Linked DNA regions of Homo sapiens. The protein of the gene in region 1 interacts with the protein of each later gene in a pairwise test. Each region holds a gene or a part of one and is shown in the gene's direction. Other genes may lie near its edges. The genes, in order: PPP1R9A and MECOM.

What was found.
Region 2: the proteins of PPP1R9A (region 1) and MECOM interact in a two-hybrid assay, tested with the Homo sapiens proteins (one study listed by BioGRID).

What each region holds. Positions count from the first base shown.
Region 1 is NC_000007.14:95,292,065-95,295,892, forward strand, and holds part of PPP1R9A (neurabin-1), read left to right. Parts: 3' UTR 1-3,828. UniProt on the Homo sapiens protein: Binds to actin filaments (F-actin) and shows cross-linking activity. Binds along the sides of the F-actin. May be involved in neurite formation. Inhibits protein phosphatase 1-alpha activity.
Region 2 is NC_000003.12:169,117,971-169,121,798, reverse strand, and holds part of MECOM (histone-lysine N-methyltransferase MECOM), read left to right. Parts: intron 1-586; coding exon of another isoform or gene 587-589; coding exon 590-743; intron 744-3,828.

The sequences.
Region 1 (3,828 bases):
CTTCATTCAATCCTCAGAAACGTTGACATGAAGTAACATTGTGTTTTACAGTTATCAAAGTCACCATTATGTTTTTCTGTCTGTCTTCATTAGGGGTATGATAATGAAACTGCCGTATTGGATACTCTATTAATGTCTTGAGATGTCTGGTGCTTTGTTATTTTTTCACATCATGAGAAATAAGAAGCCACTATTAATGAGTGATACAATTTGGCAAAACTTTTCAAATACTAAAACACTAAATTAGTAAAAATCTGGTAATATTAGTGCTTGCTATTGTAAATTTTTGCCATTTTTGCTTATCTTTGGGAAAAAAGTGACCTGGATCACACTGGAAGTTTCACTGTATTCAAGAGTAGAAATAGAAGGATGATTATCTTAAGTTATGTTTACACTTTGGTAATATTTGAAAATGGATGTATATACTGGAAATGTCTGTAAGTGTCTTGTTTTTGCACCTAATTTATGATCTATTATATTGCATTTTCTTAAATATCTTAGAAGTATTTTTCTTTATAACTTTGTATATTGAATGTTTAGATAAATGTCCAACTGACAATGTTATAAATCAAATTCTTATTCCTAAAATCATTTAGTATTATAAGTATTTTGATTTTTTAAGTTAAATTATAGTAATTTTAGGCCGAAGTGAGTTATTTTAACATTACCACTTAAAACGGATGAAATTGTAAAAGTCATTTGGTTTGATTGCCCCACAAAGCATAAGATGTAAACTGATTAAGGGTATGAAAGCAAAGTGAAAGACCTCAGATCTTGTGCACATTTTGTTTTCCTATTATTTCTTTTATTGACTGTAGTGCATGATACCTAATCAAGGCTCCAATGTCTTGCACAATTCCTACTTTAATGCTAGTGGTTTTCAGTGTCCTTACAATTTAACACAGAATTGTTATTTCATCAACCTTAAAAACTGCAGTTTTTATTATCAGAAAATGAACAAAAAGGGAATATCTGGTTGCTATGAACTGATTCCCTAAAGGAGAGCTCAGTATGATTCTAACAATAGCCAAAAGTGTTTTGGGGTATAGGTTATGCTTTGTTGGGAGGGAATGTGTGGTGAGGAGGCCAAGCTGCAGACAGAAAGCATTGTATGAGCTGTATCTGGGTCAGGGTTTCCCATTAAAGGATGTTAGTTTTATAACAGATTACTTTGTTTAAGACCATCTCCCTTCAAGTAACTCACAGTTTATGTAATACTAATCTCATTCTTTTTTTACCTGAATCAGGAATTTTCTGCAGAATGTTAAGTTAGGGAAGAAACCTCATTTCATCCATTCTAACACTCCTGATGAAGTCCCCCTTTAGTTTCATGACAATAAAGCTGTTCTGTGGCTATCATCCTTTAGCTGGGATTGACAATTGATTTCACACCCTCAACATCACAAGCTTTTTTTAACCCACAGCAGTTCATGATTGCAGTATGATAGGTACTAAAGCCAAACTCAGCTTTCAACTGGCACAAAATGGGACTGTCACCTTTTGCTCCATTGTTGTTGGAAACAAAGTGGCAAGAGGGAAAATGAGGAACCAGATTTACCTTTGCCACTATCTGTGACCCTGTAATCATCACTAGCCTGAAATCTTAAAATATCCCAGTCCCAAGCTACAAAAATGGTCACAGGTGGTTTGATCTAGCACCTCGGCCGTTAGAGTTTGTGCTGAAGACAAATTTGTCTGGGTTCATTGTGCACCAGAATTAGCATGTGCTTGAAAATTGCATTTTATAAAAGGGAAATGAAAATTTGCATTTATATAGATACTCTGATTCATGTTTAAGTGTTAAAGGTTATGCAGACTAAACTTCAAGAGGAGATCCAGTGTTTAACAATAGTGTTCTAGAGGATTCTAAAGGAAGCTGCCCCAGCAGCCCTGAGAGAACCATCTATACTTTGGATATGTTGTAGCCCCATCATTACACTGAGATATTTCCATTTGAGTAACTAAAGGTACTCCTGACAGAGCTGGAGATGAGGGGCATTTTGGTGGGCAGTGGTCACTAGGGTTCACGTCACCTACTTAATGCAAAGACCTTAGTGGTCTCAGAATGAAAAGGTAAAATGGAAGAGAAAAGCACAGTCCTTTCCTGTCTTTTCAAATTTACTTTTTATTAAGGATGTACCTGTGCACTATTCTAAAGCTAAGCATTTAAGGATAAAGTCCAGAAATAAAATGTCCATATTTTCTTTTCTTTTCTTTTTTTTTTTTTTTTTCTGTCATCTGTCACCCAGACTGGACTGCAGTGGTGCCATCATGTCTTACTGCAGCCTCAAACTCCTGGGCTCAAGTGGTCCTCCTGCTTCAGCTTCCCAAGTAGCTGGGACTACAGGCATGTGCCACCACCCCCAGCCAAAACATCCATATTTTCTATTAGAATGGTTTACATTATGATGGGGGATGGGGAGCTGGGGGAGGGCTGTACATTCCCAAAAGAAAGTAGTGTTATAGGAAATCCAAATGCGCTTCAGTGATTCACTCCTGAAAAGCAGCCTGGGTATGTTGGCAGATTTTGTTTGCATTTGTCTTGCGTATTTAAAGTCTCAGGAAATCTAGTCTTGGTCCAAAACACTGGAGAAAAAAATAACACCAGACAAAACACATTTGAGTAACTTGAAGTAGCAGCATAGAATAGGCCCAACTAAGAAGTTGGAGGGGCAAAGAGAAAGCCGACAGAATCAGCTTCTCCTGGAAAGTGAAAGCATCAAGTTCTATTTATGGTAGACAGAGGGTCCTTATTTGCTTGTCCGTGGTGTCTATGTGGGCCTATTGAGGGAATGGTAGTTACTTGAAGGTTCACATATGTAAGCGTGTGGACCCAGCACAGTCTGTGACCTGATTCCAGATCCTCAAGAGTGGAGAAGGAAAGAAATATGATGATTTCCTATGCTTGACCCTAACCCAACCCCAAAACTGCTAGGGATTCAACAGTGAGTAAGATGTATGCAATAAGAGAACAGATAACTTCTCAACAATGTGCATGCCGTTTGTGTAGATGTTCAGAACTACATATGTGTGAATATCACTCCCACCTTACACACGCACACACACTGCAATCACATGGCATTAAAAAATATATTGTGTATGGAACTTGGCGAGGTCAGTCAGGACCTGGAGCTGTAATCATAGCCTTATTGCCACTTCTTGCGTTGTGTATACATTGAATGGCTCATAGATTTTAAGAGATTTTTTTATTGTAAGTATTTCTACTAAATGCACTTATCCTTCTATATGTTTATATATTTTGGTAAAATTGATTTATCAGATACTTGGTATTTTAGTAAGAAAATTTCCTCAAATATTTGGCTAATGCTTTGATGTCAAGATTGCATATTGCTGAGTTGGAGCTCAGAAGAAATGTATGCAGCTAAAAATTGCACTGTGTGTTCTTGTGAATTTGCTCACAATTCTAAAATGACATAATTGGTGGCTGTGATGCTTACAGTCACTGCCTACTGGCTCTCTTATGATGAATGTTGCCATCATATGATCATTTATTTACTTTTTGTGCAAGCAATGGCATTTTGGTTGTTGCCAAAAACAACACAAGTGGTTGGGAGTGTATGTTGTTGGAAGGTGTACACTTCTGTTTCTTTCAGCTGTATTATTTATACACCCAGGTTTTCTGTTAAGGATGTAATCATTCATTCAAGAAAGAACAATTGGCAAGAAATAATTAAATTACCTTAAAAAGAATTAAGAGGCACTCCAGCCAGATAACACCTCCCAACAACATGAAATTTAGTTAGTGCTTAGTGAAATTCCTTAAATATATATGTATATGTTTTCTTCAACATTATTTAATATAACTAC
Region 2 (3,828 bases), on another chromosome or scaffold:
CTCATAAAAATTAAAAAATACATTTGAAATTTCTTTAGGGATGTTTTGCTCTCAGATGTGTTGGGTGGCTTTTTTATTTTTGTTTTTAGTACAATGTCTAAAGGAATGGTTTTAGCTTGCTAGTAACTCACTGAAAGAGTGTTAGAATTTTACGCCCTAGGGAAACTCTTTAAATAGATTTAATGTAGTTAGTCAAAATCCTCCAAATTTTTGTACACAATGTGTCTTTATTTAAAGGGTGAAAATAGCACACCAGTTTTAATAATGGCTTAACCAGCATTTTATTATTCAACTCAAGTCACTCTAAATGGTATCAAAAAGGCCTTGAATATGGCCTAATAGTGCCATTCATTATTTGGTTCAACTGATACCAGTGGATACACCATGCTAAGGATATAGAGCAGAATAATTTACAGTTCCTACCCTAGAGGAGAGTACATTTTGGAAATTAGAGGAGAGTACACTTTTGGTCTTTGGGGAAAAGAAAAACAAAACAAATAAGAAAAATTTCTTCTTGAGTCATCCCGGGTCTTCTTTATTGTGCCCTTGAGTTAAGTTTCTTGATTAATCAGTACTCATTTCCTAGCAGGTTTTCACGGACCCTAGCAACCTTCAGCGGCACATTCGCTCTCAGCATGTCGGTGCCCGGGCCCATGCATGCCCGGAGTGTGGCAAAACGTTTGCCACTTCGTCGGGCCTCAAACAACACAAGCACATCCACAGCAGTGTGAAGCCCTTTATCTGTAAGTTTTCAACACTCCAGCCCTCCTTCCCACATCTGTCTCTTCCCCAAAAGGCACTGTGACCAGGAGAGTGGCTGCACATGGCCTTTAGAGGGTCACCGTGTTAGCTATTTATGGTCCAATCCAGTAGGGCTATTTATGATTACAAGTAAATCTTTTATAATCAGATCCATGGTATTTTGTCCTTGATTCCTGGGGTGTTTTCTTTCAGAAGAAATCAATAACAGGTAGAGAAAAGAAAATTCATTAGATAATCAAAGGGAAACCTCCACAGGTTGTAGGATTTAATCAGGACAATCAGATTTGTCTCATATTGTAAATGTTCATGGCTTTGTAAAGCAGCAAATAGCAGCCATCACTAAACAAGATGAAGTGATTAAAAACCTGTTCTGGATCAGAAAGAGCTGGAAGAAGCCCACCTGGGAAGTAGGCTTACGGCTCTGTGTGCATGTATGTGAGTATATGTGTGTGGAGAGAGCGAGGGGGATGAAATGCTTTTTAATCTACCCATTGTTGCCGATCACAGGCTGTCGGATCTGTAGTTCTCTGTTACTTGAAGAAAAGCAGAACATTTTCACTTAGATGCTGGACATGCTGTTTCTCTTACCCACTGCACCAAAGCAAGTTTATAGGCAGTGTGCTTTTAGGGGACATCTGATCTGACCACCTACTTAGAACATCCCTGTACAGAGCACTGTAGTAACATCCTTCAAATACAATAAAACTCAGCTCTCATTTGCTTTTTCTTCTCTCCGCCCACTCCTATTCTCTGTATTGTGCTCAAACATTTTATAAGTAAAATCAGTTGTTCTTAGTCTACCTGGGCAAAAAATCTGGGCTTCTTTTAATCCATTGCTTGGCGGGGCATATAAATACAATGACTTATTGAGTTGTGCTACAAACGTCAAGACTGATTTTGGACCCAGATACACATAGAATTGGTTGAAGCATACTCAGCACTTGGCAAGACCTCTGACTTTGGTTTGTAGTAGGTATATGAGACACTACTACAGGACCTGATGGAAAAAACTATTTTTCAGTGCCAACATGGAGATGCCAGAGACTAACTCTCCTTTGCCTCGACACAGCTTTCTTTTGTGTGTCCAAGCACCAAAATAGCTTTTCTTTCCTTTTCCAGCTTACACTAGAGTCCTGTTTTGCTCATATGCTCTTCTGTTCCCCGGGTGAAGAGGACTAGCAGATTAAAAAAGGGTGCTCTCATCTCCCTTGGGGAAGCTCTATTGAAGGTCACGGGAAATAAAGCATTCAATAGAAATTTTAGACTTCTTGTCGCAAAAAGGCATTCCTGACTCTTAAGTCTTAATGCCCTGAAAATGTACTTGGAAGTACTACAGGCATACGATATTAAATAGTTCATTTATTTCTGATTCCTCAGAAATAAATTTTGGTAAGTTTTATTATGTTTTGATGTGAGAAAAAACTAGAATAAACCACAAGGAATTCTGATCACTCATTTAATGCTTTCTCTATTATTTAAAATAAAAGTCAGAAAATATAGACTTCTGCTATCGAAGATTCTGGGATCTGGAATTTTAATTGTGTTGAAGACAAGTGTTTCACTTTAAAGTGCCATAGGGTGTCCCTTTCCAATCAGATTGCATAAAGTATTTCCCTTGAATGTATTTTCAGTAATTATTGGTAAATTTAAATAGCAGATGGCATTCTTCAAATTTAAAATCTGCCAGAGAACCATGGAGTAATTATGAATAATAGCCATGTAATTTCAGAACAAAAGAGATTAAAGATCAGGAAATGGTGTGGAGACTTGAGTGGAGGAGGTTCACCTAGGGCTGATATCTGTTTCTCACCAGAAGGCCACACACCACGATTTACCCCCACTGGTGTGTTTATGGCAACTGTCTCTTATTACAGTGTGCTGCCACGCTTGAGCCCAAAGTCACCAGTGCTAAGGTAATTACTCACTGCCTTTACAGAAACCTACAGCTTTCCCAAATAGAAACCACATGCTCTAATAGGCTGAATATATTCAAAATGCCTCTTAATTTGTTTAATAAGTAGAAAAATGCAATGTTAACTGCTGGCTAATTCCTTATTACTGAGAAAATTACAGTAGAGTATAAACTTCAACATCAATTGAACCAGTTTACCTGGAGGCCTGGTAGTTTGTGGTATGCCAGGCCAGGCCTTCAAGTGCCGAAAACAAAGCCTCTGCCTAAGAAAACATCCCAGATTCGATGTTCTTGAGCCCAGACACAGACAGCACTCAGCCATGTAACAACGGGTGCCACCAGAAAAGTCAGCTGAACTTCTGTTACTCCAATAGAGAGAAGCTCTTGATTTTTTTTTTTTAAGCCATCTGATTGTAAGAAAGAAGTGTAGAGAGCAACATTTCCTTGCCAAAAAATGACAAGTCTTTGAAAAACTTATGTCTTGGTTGAATACTCATCAAGACATTTTTTCAATGCCTTTTAAGAGGTGTTGCTTTCTTACTTTTTATAATTCCAATAATAAAATATTGTTATTGCTTGTAGCTATAAATTATTCTAATATATCTAGTAAACATCTGATGTTTCTACCTTCTCCATTATTTGATTTTAATTAGTGTATCAAACAGTTTAAATTAGATGTATATTTATGGTGTATGGTTAAATTGTATATACTTTTAAAGCTGACTCTGGTCGATATATTCTGGTAAAATAATTTGAAAAGATATCACCCACATCTTCTATTCCCATTAAAATGCATGTTACAGCCTCTGTAACGTTGTGATTCATCCCACAATTGAAGGCACCTTTAATATTACCAAACACTTTGATATATGCAACAATACACTTTAACCTTTAGTAGTAAAAGAAAGAGATATACCCTTACTTGGTACTTCCTGTTTGGATGTATGTGGGATAATCCAAGCTCTGGGTGAGTTTTGCTTGACTGAAAGTCTATAAAATCTCCTTGACATGAGTTTTTTTTTTTAATTATTATTGCTTTGACTTAGAAGCACAATCATTCTGCACTTAAAGGCAGCCATCATATGAAAGCAATAACTGTTGCATTTTGTCTTCAATTTAATTTCTTAAAATAAATTTGCTTCAACAATTACCAA